2 separate regions of the Homo sapiens genome follow, and region 1 is linked to region 2. The links come from fine-mapping of genetic effects on gene expression. Tissue or cell type: caudate. Region 2 holds a variant in brackets; the other region holds the start of a gene. All regions are shown on one strand. Distances are between the middles of the regions.

Region 1 (8,331 bases), 25 kb before region 2:
CGACACAGCGAGACTCCGTCCCCCCCAAAAAAAAGAAAAAAAAAAATGAGAACACAGCTTCACAAAGAATACCATAAAGAAAACGAAAGAACAAGCCACAATTTGGGAGAAGATATTTGCCACATACATAACCAACAGAAAATTAATATCCAGAATAGCTTTAAAAGATCAACTATTTAAAATTTAAACATTTTTAAAAGACACATGGCCCAATAAAAAATGTCAAGAAATAGGAACAAGCGTTTTACAGGAGAGGAAATCCTAATCATGATGATGTTATACCTACTAAGTCAGCAGAAATGAAGAATCTAGTAATACCCAATGTCAAAAAGGATTTGGATCAACAGGAACTCTTAATACATTAATATAATCTCTTTAGAAAACAATTCAAGTGAAACATTTGTCTATATGGATACAGCACTTTTCACTTAGATTTATATTTCAGAGAAATTTTTGCAAACAGATAAGAAGACACCAGAATGTTCGGGACAATATGGTTCTCAATGGCAAAGAGACAGGCAGAAAAAAGGGAGGGAAGAAAGGGAGGGAGTGCGGGAGAGAGGGAGGAAAAAAGGAAATGAAACCCAAACACTCTTTAACAAGAAGATAGATTTTAAATTCTGGTATATTCATACCACTAATTACAGCAGTGAAAACAAATAAACTACACACAAGGGTGAATCTTAGCCATATACGAGTGGAAAAAATCAAGTTACGGAAGACAATCAGCAGGAGGATTCCTTTGTCATGAAATAATCTAAATAAGTAGTTCAGGGAAACACACCTATGTAATTAAACTACTTCTTAAATAAGAGACTGGTAAACCTAAATTTCAGGCAGGTGGTTCCCTCTGGGTCAGGCAGGTGCAAGAGTGGGGAAGAGGCACAAGGGCACAGGTCCCCTGATTTCCTAGGGTGATGGGTTCAAATGCATCCACTCTGCTGGTACAATTCATGACTAACACTGCCTTTATTCTTTTGTATGAATAAACTGATACGGCCAAAAAATTCAGAGACATTCACACACAAACCCAGCCTAGGACCCTGGAAGGCAAAGGCTCTGCAAACCTGCAGATGTGTAGGAAGCTATTACATATAGGGTTTGGGGTTCGAGTGTGCAGCTTTCCTACAAGCAGCAACAATGAATGGGACCTTTAGTTACAGGTTTACATCTCCTTCTCTAAGCATCCAAATGCACTAATTATTGCCATAATAAATAACAATGACATGATTATAGTGTGAGGCAGTTTTTTCTACTTTTAGAACCAACCTATAGACAAAGCTCAGGACACTTAATTATAGCTTCAGAATACATTGTAAATGTTGTAAAACCTTACTTTCTTAAAAAAGTAATATAACTCTTCAGAATACATTGTTAGAAAACTTTAATTCCTAAAAAATATAACTCTTCAGACTGCAATGTCAATGTTACAAAACTATTTTAAAAAGTCATATACCCAGTACTTTGGGAGGCCAGGCAGATTACTTGAGCCCAGGAGTTCGAGATCAGCCTGGGCAACATAGGGAGACCCCATCTCTACAAAAAAAAAATTAAAAATTAGCAAGGTGTGGTGGCACATGCTGGTAGTCCCAGCTGCTTGGGAGGTTGAGGTGGGAGAATCGCTTCAGCCCAGGAGGCGGAGGCTGCAGTGAGAGGACACAGCACCACTGCACTCCAGCCTGGGCCACAGAGCAAGACCCTGTCTCAAAAAATAAAATAATAAAAAAGTAATATAACTATTCAGAATATATTGTAAATGTTACAGAAGTTTCTTTGTAAAAGTAACTAACATGAAATGGAAAGGGGGAAAAAAAGCAAAGGGAGGGTAAGGGCATGCAATTTTTTGTCCTTCATGGGAGAAAGTAAATAAATACCAACTAAAGTTGTGGAAGTTTAATTAGGTTACTGAGAGTTACAAGCCTATCCAGGAGGGAAACTGATGGGACCCTCTGCGGGAGCGGGGAGGACAGCAGGAAAGATGCATCCTTTTTCCCGCTGTGCCTCCTGGGCATCTGAAGTCCACGTGGGCCAGTTTGTCACTGAACAGCATAGGCCCCTGGAGCCTCCCGTGCACTCCACAGCCACAGCCTGGCCTCAAGAAAGAACAGAGTCTGGCTTCACATGACCTTAGATCACTAAATTTTGACTCAGACGTTAACCAGAAATACCTGCACGTCCAGGCCCAAATTTTTAAAATTGTCCTTTGTATCCACTGTGAGCTGCAGACACGGGAACCCAAACCCAGCAGACAGCACCTAATGGTGCCACCGAGTAACCATATTCCCATTGCTAGTTTTGATTCCAGAAGACACAAGTGACCCCACCTCAGACCAAACAGAAGCAAGGACAACTTTGCAGGGAGCATCTCGGCGAACTTCTAGAAGCAACTGTCCCCCTCCCACCAGAACATAAGCTAAGAAGCAAACAGCTCCCATTGCTGTCAGCACAGCTGTACAACAAAAAGGAGAACCAGTTTCAGGATGAGGCCAACAAGGTGAACAGTGCAGTAGAACACAGCAAGGATGTCAGTCCTGGAGGAGGCACCTGCAGAGCCGGGCCCTACCAAGCAGAGTGAAGAAGTCTTTCAGAGGCAAAGCCTCCCAGAGAGGAGTTCAGTACCCAGAAGAGTAGGTGGACGTGGGCCTGGAAGGGCCAAGCATGAGCCCAGAGCCTCCTATGCCTGCCCAAAGTCTTAATTTTATCCCCAAAATGAACTTTTAAGGATTCAATGCTTAGGAGTAACATGGCCAGATATGCATTTTACAAAGATTACTCCAGGGACCATGTCGGTGCAAGGCTGGAAAGCAGGAGAAAGGCTACAGTAATCCAGGCAAGAAATTATAAAGTCTTAAATTAAGGTAGCAGCAGAAAGATGAAGAGAGGGAACCCCTAAGAGAAAAATGGACATCGAATGGTACTGAGATGCGGAAGGTAAGGACGAGAAAGGCCTCAAGACGGCAGCGCAGGCCCCTGCCGTACTCTGGGAAAGAAAAATTAGTGAAAAAATTAAGGCTCAAGTCCAGGTCTTTGCTGTAACCACGAGCGCCGGCGGCGCGCGCCCCCGACCCCGCGGCGCCGGCTGAGCCCGCAGGGACCCACACGCCCAGTGCAGGAGGCTGGCGGGATCCGGGCTGGTTCTCCTGGAGCTCGCCCCGCAGGGCCGGCTGCGGTGAAGAGAGCGCAGGGTCCCGAGGCGACCCGAGGCGCGGGGCCTCGGCGCCCACCGGGCAGGCTACACTGAAGGGCACCCCGAAGACGCTGGGGGCGCGGGGCCCAGGGCCAACGGCCGCAACCCCGCCGCGATTTGGGCACGGAGAGGACGCGGGCTCGGCGGTGCGCGAAGGGCGACGGGCGCAGGGGCGGGAGACCCGGGGTCGGGCTGGTCTAAGAGTCGGGCGGCGGATCCTCCTGGGCCAGGGGCGCGGAGCCGCGCAGGCCCCACAGCCGCCCTGGGGAGATGGCGGAGCCCGGCCCGCTCTCCCGAGCGCAGGTATCTCACCTGGATCAGGCGAGGGTCACGCCAAGCCGGCTACACACCACGGAAAGGAGCCCTTCCGCGCTTTTATCCCACCGACCAATCGCACAGCGACTAGCACCGATTGACAAGCTCCACGGACCAGCCACTTGCGCGTATGGGCGGGACTAAGCTAGCCAGAGTCTAGAAGCCCGCGCTAAGGGTTGCTAGGGACGCACCAAACACCCCTACGGCGCTTCGGAGGAGCCAAAGGAATAATGGGCGCCTCCGCCCCCGGGCCGGGCAGATGCGGTTTCCTCCCGACTCGCGATCAAAATGGGTGAGTAGCGCAGAGCTCGCCTCTTGGAGGCCTCTTTCTGAAGGCGGAGGACGCGGGGCGGCTCGTTCATGGGCCGGGTGGCTCCGCAGGGTAGACGAAGGCTGCAGCGTCCGCACTGGGCTGGGAACGACTTGCAAGGGGAGCCCAGCTGGCGCCCCGGAGCCAGCCAGCTGGCTAGCGGCCCCACCAGCGCAAGTGCCCCGCACCTGCCCGCCTGCTCCGAGCGTCAAGAGAAGGCGGCATTTCGCATGGGTAAAATCCGCGCGGGGACGCCGGGAGAATGTTGTTGCTCTTGCCGTTCGGCCCATTGTACAGACGCAGCCAGCGAGGCTCGCAGAGGTCAGGGATGCACGTAGGACTGGCCCGCACCTTGCAGCCACGGAAAGATCCGCCTGGCCCGCGGCCCCTCCACGCCTCCGAGGTCGAGACAGTGACATAAGTCAACTCTCAAGCCCAGGGCGTCTCTCCACTCTGCCTAGACGTCCACTCCGTCTGCCTGCAGCTACGGCTCTGTGCGTCCCGCTTCGACTCCCTCTGCTTTCCTTCCCAGCTTCTCGCCTCCAGACTGTTCCGGCTCCGCCGCCTGAAATTACCTGCTCTGGGGGAGGCGCGGCGCGCGGCCTCATGACGGAACTACAACTCCCATGAGGCGCTGGGCCCACGCAGGCGCGGCGCGGCTGAAGTCGCCGCGCCGGAATCCCATTGGCAGGGCCGGCTCTGAGGCGGGAGCCCTGATTGGCTGAGGGGTCTGAGGCGACAGATTCCGGAAAGGGGAAGAGCAGCCAACATGGCGGCGGAACGCGGCGCGGGGCAGCAACAGTCGCAGGAGATGATGGAGGGTGAGCGGCCCCTGCGGGCGGCGGCCCAAGGGCCCAGCGGGCGGGGGGAGCTGCGGGCTGGAACTGCTCCGTGCCTGAGAGAAACTCCACGTCCTGCCTCTGGCCGCCGCCGCGCGGCCCCCTGACAGCTGACAGCCGGACCCGGGGGAGCGGGGGAGGCGCTGGACCTCGGGGGAGCCCCGGCCCGGGGGCGGCAGCGGCCGGGAAGGACCCAGAGCTAGGGGGAGAGCGGCGGCGCGAGGCCAGGCCGGGGGTGGGGCTGAATGGGACGCGGTGGCTCCATTCAGTCCAGTTGGAGCCTCGCCCCGAGCCTCTGAGATTGACGGGCGGGGGAGCCTCCTCGGTCAGCTGACGAGGAAACTGAGGCGCTGGGATCTACCAGAGTCTGCTCCTTGGTTCACGTGGTGAGGGTGGAGAAGGGTCTTCTCTTGAAATCGAATGGACTGTTGGGAAGGGGTAACAAGGAACCGGAAGATTGAGTTACACAAGGTGATACCTGTTTTCAAAGCTGTCATAGTTCCAAAAAGTCTGAATTCAACTTTCTTCCTCCTCATTCACTTTGTTGGAAAAAAAAACCACATGCATATATGTATATGTTATACGTACACATGTGTTTATAATTTTCTGCATATCTGTAGGTACAGTCATATACGTGCACGTACAGTATGTGTGTAAAAATGCGTGCACACACCCACTTAGCAACTGGGGAATCAGTTGTGTCATCAGCTTAAGTACTTTTGGGTCCCATGGTTTGGTGAGGGGTACAGACCTCCCAGAAGAGCAGTCACTGCCTTATGTGAAAGGGGTAGGGAAGAGGAATGTGGAGCTGGGGAAGGAGGGCGGGTGCAGCAGGAAGGCCTGACATGTTAGGGAGTGGTGACAGCTGCAGAAGCAGGGCGAGCTCTGAGCTGGAGCCTGAAGAATAACTCGAAGGCAACGAGGTTGGGGATAGGGTGAGGGAAAAGAGCAAGAATCACTCAAGACGGAGAAAACTGCTGTCAAAAGGTGTGGAGGAGAGTTTGACCAAATCGTATGTGGTGGGGATGGGGGCGGTAGTGTTAAGGGTCTTGGACTTCATACCCTTTGAGTCTTTTTAAGAAGCGCCTCTTCATATCCTCCCACTCCCTCTTCAGCTGTTTCCATGTCTTGGTAAATGACAGATATAAAAGCCCGGCTTTTCTCACTGTCCCACTCCCACCCATGTCCTGTTAGTCAAGGAGCTCTGACTTTTACTTTTGAAAGTATCTCCAAATCTCCGATACGTCCTCCATTCCCATTGCCAGTACCTTAACTCAGACCTTCATCATCTCTAGGCTAGATTGATTGTCCCTGTTCACCAGCCCATCATCCCCAGTACACCAAAGTCATTTTCTTACATGCAGAGCCACTGTCCCATGTTCCAGACCCTCTCTGCTGCCCTCAGGCTTCACTTTGGCCAACCTTCGTTAGCTAAGCCTTTGCTAACCTCACACCACTCCTCCTCTTACTGGGGTTTTTGTGCCAGATTGTCATGCAGTAGAACTTTCTCTCCCTGAGCCTGGACCACCAAGTGACCTGTGCCTGGTGGTGACTAATTTGTTATATATCTACTGCATGTCATGCACGTGCTAACTGCTCTTGTGCCTTTTCTAATTTAACCGTGACAGCAACTTGCTGAGGCATAGGTGCTATACTAGCTCCCTTCCACAGACTAGGAGATTGAGGCTTTCAAATGGAAACGATTTGCCAAAGCTGCATCTCTAGCAGCAAGATGCAAACTCAGGAAGAGCATTCCAGAAATACTTTTGGACTCAAAAGATCAGATTTGGATTTTAGAATTAGATCAGACTCTCTGGCAGGGGAGAATAGGTTAAGCAGGGCAAGACAAGTCACAGAGACGAGTTAGGAGGCAGGGCAGGAGCCCAGGCTGCAGCTAATAAGTAAGTGAGCCACCGTCATTGCGGGGGTAGGGAAGAAGAGATGGATTTGGAGGTTTTGGAGGTGGGTTTTATAAGGACTTGTTTTCTACAGCAATCCTTTCTTGGGTTTTACTTTGCTAGGCTAAGCGGGAAGTACAAAGATGAAGTTGAACTTTTTCCCTCAAAGAGCACATCTCTTTGTAGATAAACCATAGTCAGGAAAGAGTATTTTCAGTATGGTTGATAATTCCAAGTAATGTGTTAGTGCCTCATGTTTTCCAGACAGACTTCCAAAAGAGGTCATGAGTAAAGTTATAAAAAAGAAAAATGATTTGACAACCTTACCAAAGAATTTTTACCTGACACATTGAATTGCCTTATTCTTTAATTCAAAAAATATTTATGAACCTTTAAAAGCCTTAAGTTGCTAACACTCTGTCCAGTGTCCAGTGTGAAAGCTCATTTCACACCAATGAGCTTTCTGTGGGCGGTCAGCACTATTGGCTGTATTCTCCTTTTCCTTAGTGATCCTCCCTGCCCACAGTCTGATTTGAGTTAGTCTTGATTTCTTTCAGAACGTGGGCCTGTGAACTTGGCTGGTTTTCTTAGCCAGATAAATAGTGGAGCATGGATGGAGGTATGTGGCAGAAGGGTCACAGTGGTGATCCCCCAGCCCAAAAGTGAAAGGCACTCAGGAGGTGCTTCACTACCGGGTTCCATTAGTGGATTTAATCACAGGTGATCCAAGGCTTTCAGAACACTGGGCAATTCTTCACAAGCTCCTTGAGGGCAGAAGTAGTGTGTTCCTCACCTAAGTATCCATGTGGGCTCCACACTCTGCTCCCCATTCTCCCCGCGGCCATATGCCTCAAATGGTGCTGGGACATGGGAGACACTCAGATGTTCGTTGAACTGGATTCAACAAACATGTTTAAATGAAATCCTTTTGACTTACAACCGGGTGTTTATTATATGTTCCTCAAAGTCCCATAAAGTGGATGTGAATTCTCATTGACATGTGTGGGTTCAGTTGACAGGCGGGTCGAGTCTGAAGAATCCGGCGATGAAGAAGGGAAGAAACACAGCAGTGGCATCGTGGCCGACCTCAGTGAACAGAGCCTGAAGGATGGGGAGGAGCGGGGGGAGGAGGACCCAGAAGGTACCAGGCCCAGCTCCCTTGGGGACATCTGCTGGTTGGGGGATGTGGGCTGTGCTGCACGTGGTCTGGCCCTGGGTGTGGGTGCTGTGTCGGTCTGGAGAAGGACTGCCGTGCTCCTTAGGGGTCCTCAGTGGCCCAGGGCAGGTGGATATGCTCTTTGAGGTGCTCCTTCAGCAGGCTGACTCATTGATGGCGTTTGCAAAAAGGATGTGGTTTTTTCCAATTCCACTGAAGGCAAATCCTAGCACAAATATGGGTACTAGTATGCCGTCTGAGACAGAACCATGACATTGTTGGCCAGATGCAGTGGCTCATGCCTGTAATCCCAGCACTTTGGAAGGCCAAGGCGGGTGGATCACGAGGTCAGGAGATCAAGCCCATCCTGGCCAACATGGTGAAACCCTGTCTCTACAAAAAATACAAAAATTAGCTGGGCGTGGCAGCGTGTGCCTGTAATCCCAGTTACTCAGGAGGCTGAGGCAGGAGAACCGCTTGAACCCAGGAGGTGGAGGTTGCAGTGAGCCGAGAACACACCACTGCACTCCAGCCTAGGTGACAGAGGGATACTCCTTCTCAAAAAAAAAAAAAAAAAAAAAAAAAGGAAAAAGAAAAGAACCGCAATATTGTTATATTAACCATAT
Region 2 (8,331 bases):
GCCTCAATGAGTCCAGGTGGGTCTATGTGCAGCCCACCCTTGAAGGAAGGTGTGGCTGGTGGTAGGCTGGTTGAATTAGTGCATAGGGAGTTGGCAAAGAAGCCAGGGAACAACACAAAGAAACCAAACAACAGGAATAAGGAGTCCAGAGACAGAGGACCAGGTGATAGGGAAAGGGCACCTGGCAAAAAATTAGGGAGCAGGTTTGGGAAACGAGCTGATACTGAAGCAATGTTCCTGAAGCGTAACGATTCCTTCTGCATGCCCTGCCTAGGAACAGAGCATGGGGCACAGAGTGCTGAGACCACAGGCAGGGGCCAACCTGGGTACCACAGCTAGCAGGGAGGCAGGCAGGCTGGTGATCAATCACTAGGGGCCAGGTAGTGCCTGACCCTGTAACACAGAAGAATCCTGTTCCTTAGGCCACCAAAGATAGTAAAAAATAGCCAGAATTTGCACAGCGCTTTATGGTGTCCATACCTCTCTCCATTCTGATCCAATTATCACAGCAACCATGTGGATAAGGTCATATTACCCCATTTTACAGGTAAAGAATTGCATTCCAGGAAGGAAAGCTGCAAACCAGGAATTCTCAAACTCAGTTCCATGCTCATATCACATTTGAGAGGCACATCATTCATCTCTAAGGCAGAAATAGAAAACCAGTCTTAACAAGTTTCTGATAACCCACATACTATGTTTGTTGATTTTTCTGCCTATTTGTTCCAATTACTGAGAGGAGAATGTTGAAACCTTCCAACTATAATTGTCAATGGATCCATTTCTCCTTTCAGTTCCATCAGTTTTTGTTTCTTGTATTTTGAAAGTCTGTTATCAGGTGCATACATATTTAGAATTGAGGAATTCTTGATGAATTGATCCATTTATCATATGAAATGTTCTTCTTTCTTGCTTATCCTCTTTATCCTTGTCCTGGAAGGGTATCTTGTCTGTTATTAACACAGCCCCTTCATCTGTCTTATGATTAGCGCTCTCATGGAATCTTTCTCCATCCATTTCCTCTTAACCCATGCCTTTATAATTAAAATGTGTTTTTCATAAAAAGTATGTAACTAGATCTTGCTTTCTTCTCCAGTCTGAGAATCTCTGCCTTTTAAGTGGTGTCTTTAGACTGCTTACATTTAATATAATTACATTTAATTACATTTTGTGTAATGGTTGAGTTTAAGTCTATCATCTTAGTATTTGTTTTTTATTTGTCTCATCTATTCTTTGTTTACTCTTTCCTACCTACTTTTTGGAGTGACTTTTTTTTTTTTGCAGTCTATTTTAACTCTATTATTGGCTTATTTGCTATACCTCTGTATTAGTGTTTTCTTGTTGATTGTTTGGAGGGAGGGTTGTTTTAGCGATTAGAATTTAAAAATACATTTTTAATTTTCACCATCTATATATTTTACATTTAAATATCTTACGATCCCCATGATACCTTATCTTTTAAAGAAATTTAAAAATGGCCAGGCGCAGTGGCTCATGCCTGTAATCCTAGCACTTTGGGAGGCCAAGGCAGGTGGATCACCTGAGATCAGGAGTTTGAGACCAGCCTGGCCAACGTGGTGAAACCCTGTCTCTACTAAAAATGCAAAACTTAGCTGGGCATGGTGGCACATGCTGTAGTCCAAGCTACTCAGGAGGCTAAGGCACGACAATCACTTGAACCTGGCAAGTGGAGATTGCAGTGGGCCAAGATCGTGCCACTGCACTCCAGCCTGGGCAAAAAAGTGAAACTCCGTCTCAAAAAAAAAAAAAAAGAAATTTAAAAACAAGAAAACTCACTTATTTTACCTTTTCTGGCATTGTTTATTCTTTCGTGTGGATCTGAGTTTCCACTTGGTATTTCCCTTCCACCTGAAGAATTCTATTGTTTTGTCGTGCATTCTGCAGTAAACCAATCCTTCACTTTGATTTGTTTGAAAAATCTATTTAATTTGCCTGCATTTTTGGAATTTAATATTATGGATACACAATTCTAGCTTGAGAGATTTTTTTTTCCTTTTTAAGTACATTAAATACTTTGTTCTTTCATCCTCTGGTTTGCATTATTTCTCCTTTATAAAATTTTTATTATTTTAAAAATATTTTTTAAAAATAAATAGAGATGGGGCCAGACACGGTGGCTCACACCTGTAATCCCAAGGTGGATCACTTCAGGTCAGGAGTTTGAGACCAACCTGACCAACATGGCGAAACCCCGTCTCAACTAAAAATTCAAAAATTAGCTGGGCGTGGTGGCACGTGCCTGTAGTCCCAGCTACTGGGGAGGCTGAGACAGGAGAATCGCTTGAATCCAGGAGGCAGAGGTTGCAGTGAGCCAAGATCATGCCACTGTAGTCCAACTTGGGCAACAGAGCAAGACTTTCTCAAAAAAAAAAAAAAAAAAAAAAAAGGACGGGATCTTGCCATGTTGCCCAGACTGGTCTCGAACTCCTGAGCTCAGACAGTCCTCCTGCCTCAGCCTCCCAAAGGGCTGGGAGTACAGGTGTGAGCCACCACACACGGCCCTGGTTTGCATTATTTCTAATAAGAAGCCAGCAGTCATTTTTATCTTTTTTCCTCTGGCTGCTTTTTAATGTTCTTTTTAATCATTGTTTCTTATTTTGTTTTGTTTTTTGCAACTTGAATATAGCGTGCCATGGTGTAGTTTATTTTCTGTGATGTGTCAGGGTTAACTGGGTCTGTGAATCTATGGTCTTCATCAAATGTGGAAAGCTTCTGGAGACTATTTTCTCTAAAACTGCTTCTGCCCTTGCTCCTCACCCCGGTTTCTCTCTGAAAACCCAGTTATGCATGTTCCCCTGGCACTAGCGAGGCCCCTGAGGCCATTGCCTCCACCCTGCTCCACCCCTTGGGCTTTCATCTTGCTGTGCTTGTTTGTATAATTTCTGTTGTTAAATCTTCAAGATCATGATCTTATCATCTGTAGTAGCCTATCTGCTGTTAAGCCCATGTCATGAATTTTTTATTTCAGATACTGTATTTTTCTCAACTCTAAAAGAACATTTGGCTTTATTTTTTTTTTTTTGGTAGATTATTTTTCTCTCTTCATTAGATTCATGTTTTCCTTTAAGTCCTTCCTTCTTCACGTCTTGTAATTTTTTATTAGATCCTGGGCTTTATGGTGTTCAATTGTTGAATGTCTGGAATTTATGTTGTTTTCCTTCAAAACATACTGAACTTTATCTGACAGGCAATTAAGTTACAGCTTGATCCTTTTGAGGCTTGTTTTTAAGCTTTATTAGAGTACATCTAAATAGTCTACTCCGTAAGATTAATCTAGCACTGTTTTGAAGCTGTGGCCCTCCTAGGATCTCTGGTGAATATCCTGTGTATTTAAGTTCTCTCCACTGTGGTTGACGGGAACACAAACATGGACCTGCTATGGGTGAGCTCTGGGCATTCTGCATCTTGGGGCTGCTTAGTAGTTCTTC[G/A]ACCAGCCTTTAGCTTTTCACTCTGCCTAGCACAGCTTCATCTTCAGTCCAGGATTCCACAGGATACCATGTGGATTTCTGGAGGCTTTTTCCCTACATAGCTCACTCCTATCTATACATTCCAGCTCCCTTTGCCTCCCCAAACTACAATCACCATCTCAACTCTGTGTGGCCACCAGGCTCTGCTTGGGTTCCGCCTCCTTGTGGTCCTGAAAGTTCCTCCAGGCAGAAGGCCGGGATGATCACACCACCCACCTCATTTGTTTCCTGTCTCTCAAGAATCACTATCTGTGTTGCCTGTTGTCTGATGTATAAAAACAATTATTTCATATATTTTATCCTCTTTTTTTTTTTTTTGAGATAGAGTCTTGCTCTGTCGCCCAGGCTGGAGTGCAGTGGCGCGATCTCAGCTCACTGCAAGCTCCGCCTCCTGGGTTCACACCATTCTCCTGCCTCAGTCTCCTGAGTAGCTGGGACTACCGGTGCCCGCCACCACGCCTGGCTAATTTTTTTTGTATTTTAGTAGAGACAGGGTTTCACTGTGTTAGCCAGGACAGTCTCCATCTCCTGACCTCATGATCCGCCCGCCTTGGCCTCCCCAGGTGCTGGGATTACAGGTGTGAGCCACCGCGCCCGGCCTATTCTATCCTATTTTCTAGTAGCTTGTGACAAAGGCAGGAGCTCAGCACCAGCTATTCTGTCATGGCTTGAAACAGAAGTCCTACTTATTTATCTTACTTTTGTGTCTGTCTCCCCCACTGTATAATACAAACCTCATAAGGGCAGGGAAATTAGTGTTTGGTTTACTTTGTTTTCCCTCCCAATTTCTTTATTGTGGTAAAACATGCATAAAATAAAACTCACCATCTTAACCATGTGGAAGTGTACAGTGAGTGGTATTCAGCACATTCGTAATGGTGCACAGCCATCACCACCGTCCATCTCCAGGACTCTTTTCAACTTATAAAACTGGAACTCTGTACCCATTAAACAATAACTCCCTATTTTCCCCTTCCCAGACCTTGACAATGACCCTTCTACTTTCTGTCTCTATGAATTTAACTACAGACCTCATATCACTGGAATCATGCAGTATTTATTTTTGTGACTGGCTTACTTCACTCAGCATATTGACCTGAAGATTCACCCATTCTGTAAGCATGTGTCAGAATTGCCTTTCTTTTTAGGGCCAAATAATATTCCGCAGTATGGATATTGTTTTGTTCACTCTTATCTCACCAGCATCTGGAATAGTGCCTGATACACTTTTTTCTTTTGAGACAGAGTCTTGTTCTGTCACCCAGGCTAGAGTGCAGTAGCATGATCATGGCTCACTGAAGCCTTGGCCTCCTGAGTTCAAGTGATCCTCCCACCTCAGCCTCCCAAGTAGCTGGGACTGCAGGTGTGCACCAATGACCTGGCTACATTTGTGGGTTTTTTGTTTTGTTTCGTTTTTTGTTTTTTTGAGATGGAGTTTTGCTCTTGTCACCCAGGCTGGAGTGCAATGGCACAATCTCACTGCAGCCTCCGCTTTCCAGGTTCAAACGATTCTCCTGCCTCAGCCTCTCAGTAGCTGGGATTACAGGTGAATGCCACCACGCCTGGCTAATTTTTGCATTTTTAGCAGAGACGGGGTTTCACCATGTTGGCCAGGATGGTCTCAAACTCCTGACCTCAGGTAATCCGCCCACCTCGGCTTCCCAAAGTGCTGGGATTACAGGAGTGAGCCACTATGTCTGGACCATTTTAAAATCTTTTGTAGAGACAAGGTCTCACTGTGGTGTCCAGGCTGGTCTCAAACTCCTGAACTCAAGCAATCCTCCTGCCTGGGCCTCCCAAAGTGCTGGGATTACAGGTGTGAGCCACCATGCCCAGTCAGTGCCTGAAACATATTTGAATGAGCAGAAGGAACATAGAAAAGGCTGGCCAACTGGGTGGAGGCCAGCTACAGATAACATTGGAAAATATGTTATCCACATGTGTCAGATGCAGGGCTAACATCCTTACATTAAAAACAGCTCACACCCAGGTACCACTTGAAAACTAGGGTGTTCACAGAGCAAGAAGTAACAGTTGCTTGTAAATACATAAAGCATTTCCTATCTCATTAATTTTTTTTTCTTTCTTTTTTTTTTTTTTGAGATGGAGCTTTGCTCCTGTCGTCCAGGCTAGAGTGTAGTGGCACGATCTCGGCTCACTGCAACCTCCACCTCCCGGGTTCAAGTGATTCTCCTGCCTCAGCCTCCCAAGTAGTTGGGATTACAGGTGGCTGCCACCACCATGCCTGGCTAATTTTTGTATTTTTAGTAGAGACGGGGTTTTGCCATGTTGGCCAGGCTGGTCTTGAACTCCTGGCCTCCAGTGATCTGCCTGCCTCGGCTTCCCAAAGTGTTGGGATTACAGGCGTGAGCCACTGTGCCTGGCCATATCTCATTAACTTTTAAAATCTACTAAAACAGTGAGATACAGTGTTATCTGTCAGGTTGGTGAAGACTCATAGAATGCAGCTGCAACCAGCCTGTGATGGCAGCAGGCACTCTCGTGACTACGGAGATAGCTGTGTTTCATACAAGTTTTCTGTAGGGCATTTAGAGCCTTAAAAATACCACATGCAGCTGGGCACGGTGGCTCACACCTGTCATCCCAGCACTTTGGGAGGCTGAGACGGGTGGGTCACCTAAGGTCAGGAGTTTGAGACTAGTCTAACCAATATGGTGAAACCCCATCTCTACTAAAAATACAAAAATGAGCCAGGCGTGGCGGCATGCACCTATAGTCTCAGCTACTGGAGAGGCTGAGACAGGAGAATTGCTTGAACCCAGGAGGCGGAGGTTGCAGTGAGCCAAGATCGTGCCACTGCACGATCAGGTCAGGAGATCGAGACCATCCTAGCCAACATGGTGAAACCCTGTCTCTACTAAAATACAAAAATTTAGCTGGATGTGGTGGCACGCGCCTGTAGTCACCACTACTCGGGAGGCTGAGGCAGGAGAATCGCTTGAACCTGGGAGGCAGAGGTTGCAGTGAGCCAAGATTGTGCCACTGCACTCTAGCCTGGCGACAAAGCTAGACTCCACCTTAAAAAAAAAAAAATCATAGAGAGCTTCCTAACCAAGATTTAAAAATCAGTGAAAAAAGAAAGAATAGGTATATCTAATTTTATAAAGCGTATGTATTTTGCATGATGAAAGAGTCCATTGGTCGCCTGAGAGGTTAAGGTTAAGGTTATTTTCTATGACATACAAAAAGTTCTTTAAAGTGAAAGAAAGCGATTCAATAGAAAAATAGGTGGAGGATAGCAATACACAGTTCACCAATATGATGCATCCCGCCCCTGCCATACGCGACTTGTTTCAAGCTGACATCCAGGGCCTGGAGGGTGGGCTGAGACCAGCACTGCCCTGCTCAGGCCCCCACCCTCTTCCCAGTAATCCAGGGGAAAGGTAGCATCACAGTGACCAAAGGCAGTAGCCAGGGGAGGAGAAACATTTGGCAGGAAAGTTTCCACCCTCATGGTGTCTGATGCCGGCATGGAGCCCATCTGCCCACTGCCCTGCTGGCACAGGGGCTTCCCCAGGACCCTCCCAGATGCTCTGTTGGCAGATGCTGCCCGCTCGTTTAAGCCAAGTGATGCCATTTAAATTACATTGCAGGCCTGCTCCATGCCACAGCTGTGCTTCCTCAGCCCTCTTGATGGAATGCTTTCCTGTAGGCAGCGCCCTGCACAAGCAGCCTGTGCCAGCTTGGCACCCCTGACCCAGGGCTGTCTGGGTGTGAGCTGCAAGGAGCGGGGGGCACAGGTAGGGGCTGCTCGAGGAGAGGCTGTGTGCCTCCCTCCCAGCATGTGTGCCTGGCCTGGGCCCACTTTCTGCTCCCCTTCAGTCTAGTGATGGCCATTTCATTAGGTTTCAGTTGCATTCCTTTAATTACAGATGAGTCTAACCCTGGCGCCTCTGTTTTCAACCACTTTGTCCTTTTGTTCCCTCTTGATACTTTCTGCTAGCTTTAGTCCAGTGCATTTTCCCTTTTATTATTAACTTATAGAGATTCTATCAATGAATGATACTAAACCTTAGTATGTCATCTGTGTTGCAGATACTTTACTTTGTCACTGGTCTTCAGCTTTTTTTTTTTTTTTTGAGACAGAGTCTGGCTCTGTCACCCAGGCTGGAGTGCAGTGGCGTGATCTCGGCTCACTGCAAGCTCCACCTCCTGGGTTCACACCATTCTCCTGCCTCAACCTCCCGAGTAGCTAGGACTACAGGTGCCCGCCACCACGCTCCGCTAATTTTTTTTTTTTTTTTTTAGACGGAGTCTGGCTCTGTCCCCCAGGCTGGAGTGCAGTGGCGCAATCTCCGCTCACTGTAACCTCCGCCTCCCGGGTTCAAGGGATTCTCTTGCCTCAGCCTCCCGAGTAGCTCACCATCCCCACGGACAGCTCTCGATGTGGCCGTGCCTGTGTCTGGCAGCCTCACCATCCCCACGGACGGCTCTTGATGGGCCGTGCCTGTGTCACGCATCTCCTTTGTTAAACTGTCATGGAGATTTTCAGAAAATAAGTGATTTTTACATTCTACCAGTTGTTTATGAAATGTATCTTAAGAATTCTACCCATCTTTTGCTTAAAACATTACTGAGTTTGGGGTAATTAATGTGAATTTTCTATAATATCAGCCAAAAAAATTGTGAAGGGAAATACAGGTATCCTATGTATGTATATGCAAAATACACAGATAGAAAACCCCATAAATACAAAATGCAAGTTTGGGTTCCAAAAACCAAAAGAGTCTGCCAGGAAAACGTCAGCCAAGAAGATGTTCTCTAGCAGAATCCCAGCCGTTGGTTCGGGCAAGGGATCAGCTGCTGAGATTACTGGGAAGGA

What was found.
Region 1: it holds the start of PASK, and the variant in region 2 is fine-mapped to the expression of PASK in caudate (GTEx, PIP above 0.99). The same link has a PIP of 0.9 or more in putamen.

What each region holds. Positions count from the first base shown.
Region 1 is chr2:241,145,915-241,154,245 of GRCh38, forward strand. PASK (PAS domain containing serine/threonine kinase) reads right to left here and starts at 3,558. Exons shown (of 18, transcript NM_015148.4): 1 at 3,500-3,558. It overlaps PPP1R7 (protein phosphatase 1 regulatory subunit 7), which reads left to right and starts at 4,553. Exons shown (of 10, transcript NM_002712.3): 1 at 4,553-4,633; 2 at 7,562-7,690. The coding sequence starts at 4,582. RefSeq lists enhancers at 2,512-2,671, 4,185-4,344 and silencers at 2,925-2,974, 3,025-3,084, 3,145-3,504, 4,635-4,974.
Region 2 is chr2:241,170,887-241,179,217 of GRCh38, forward strand. All of the region lies in intron 9 of PPP1R7 (protein phosphatase 1 regulatory subunit 7), which reads left to right. The region is part of intron 2 of LOC105373971 (a long non-coding RNA gene); the gene reads right to left. Among named protein-coding and RNA genes, the nearest start is that of ANO7, 14 kb to the right of the region's middle. The variant G/A (reference allele first, on the strand shown) is at 3,450.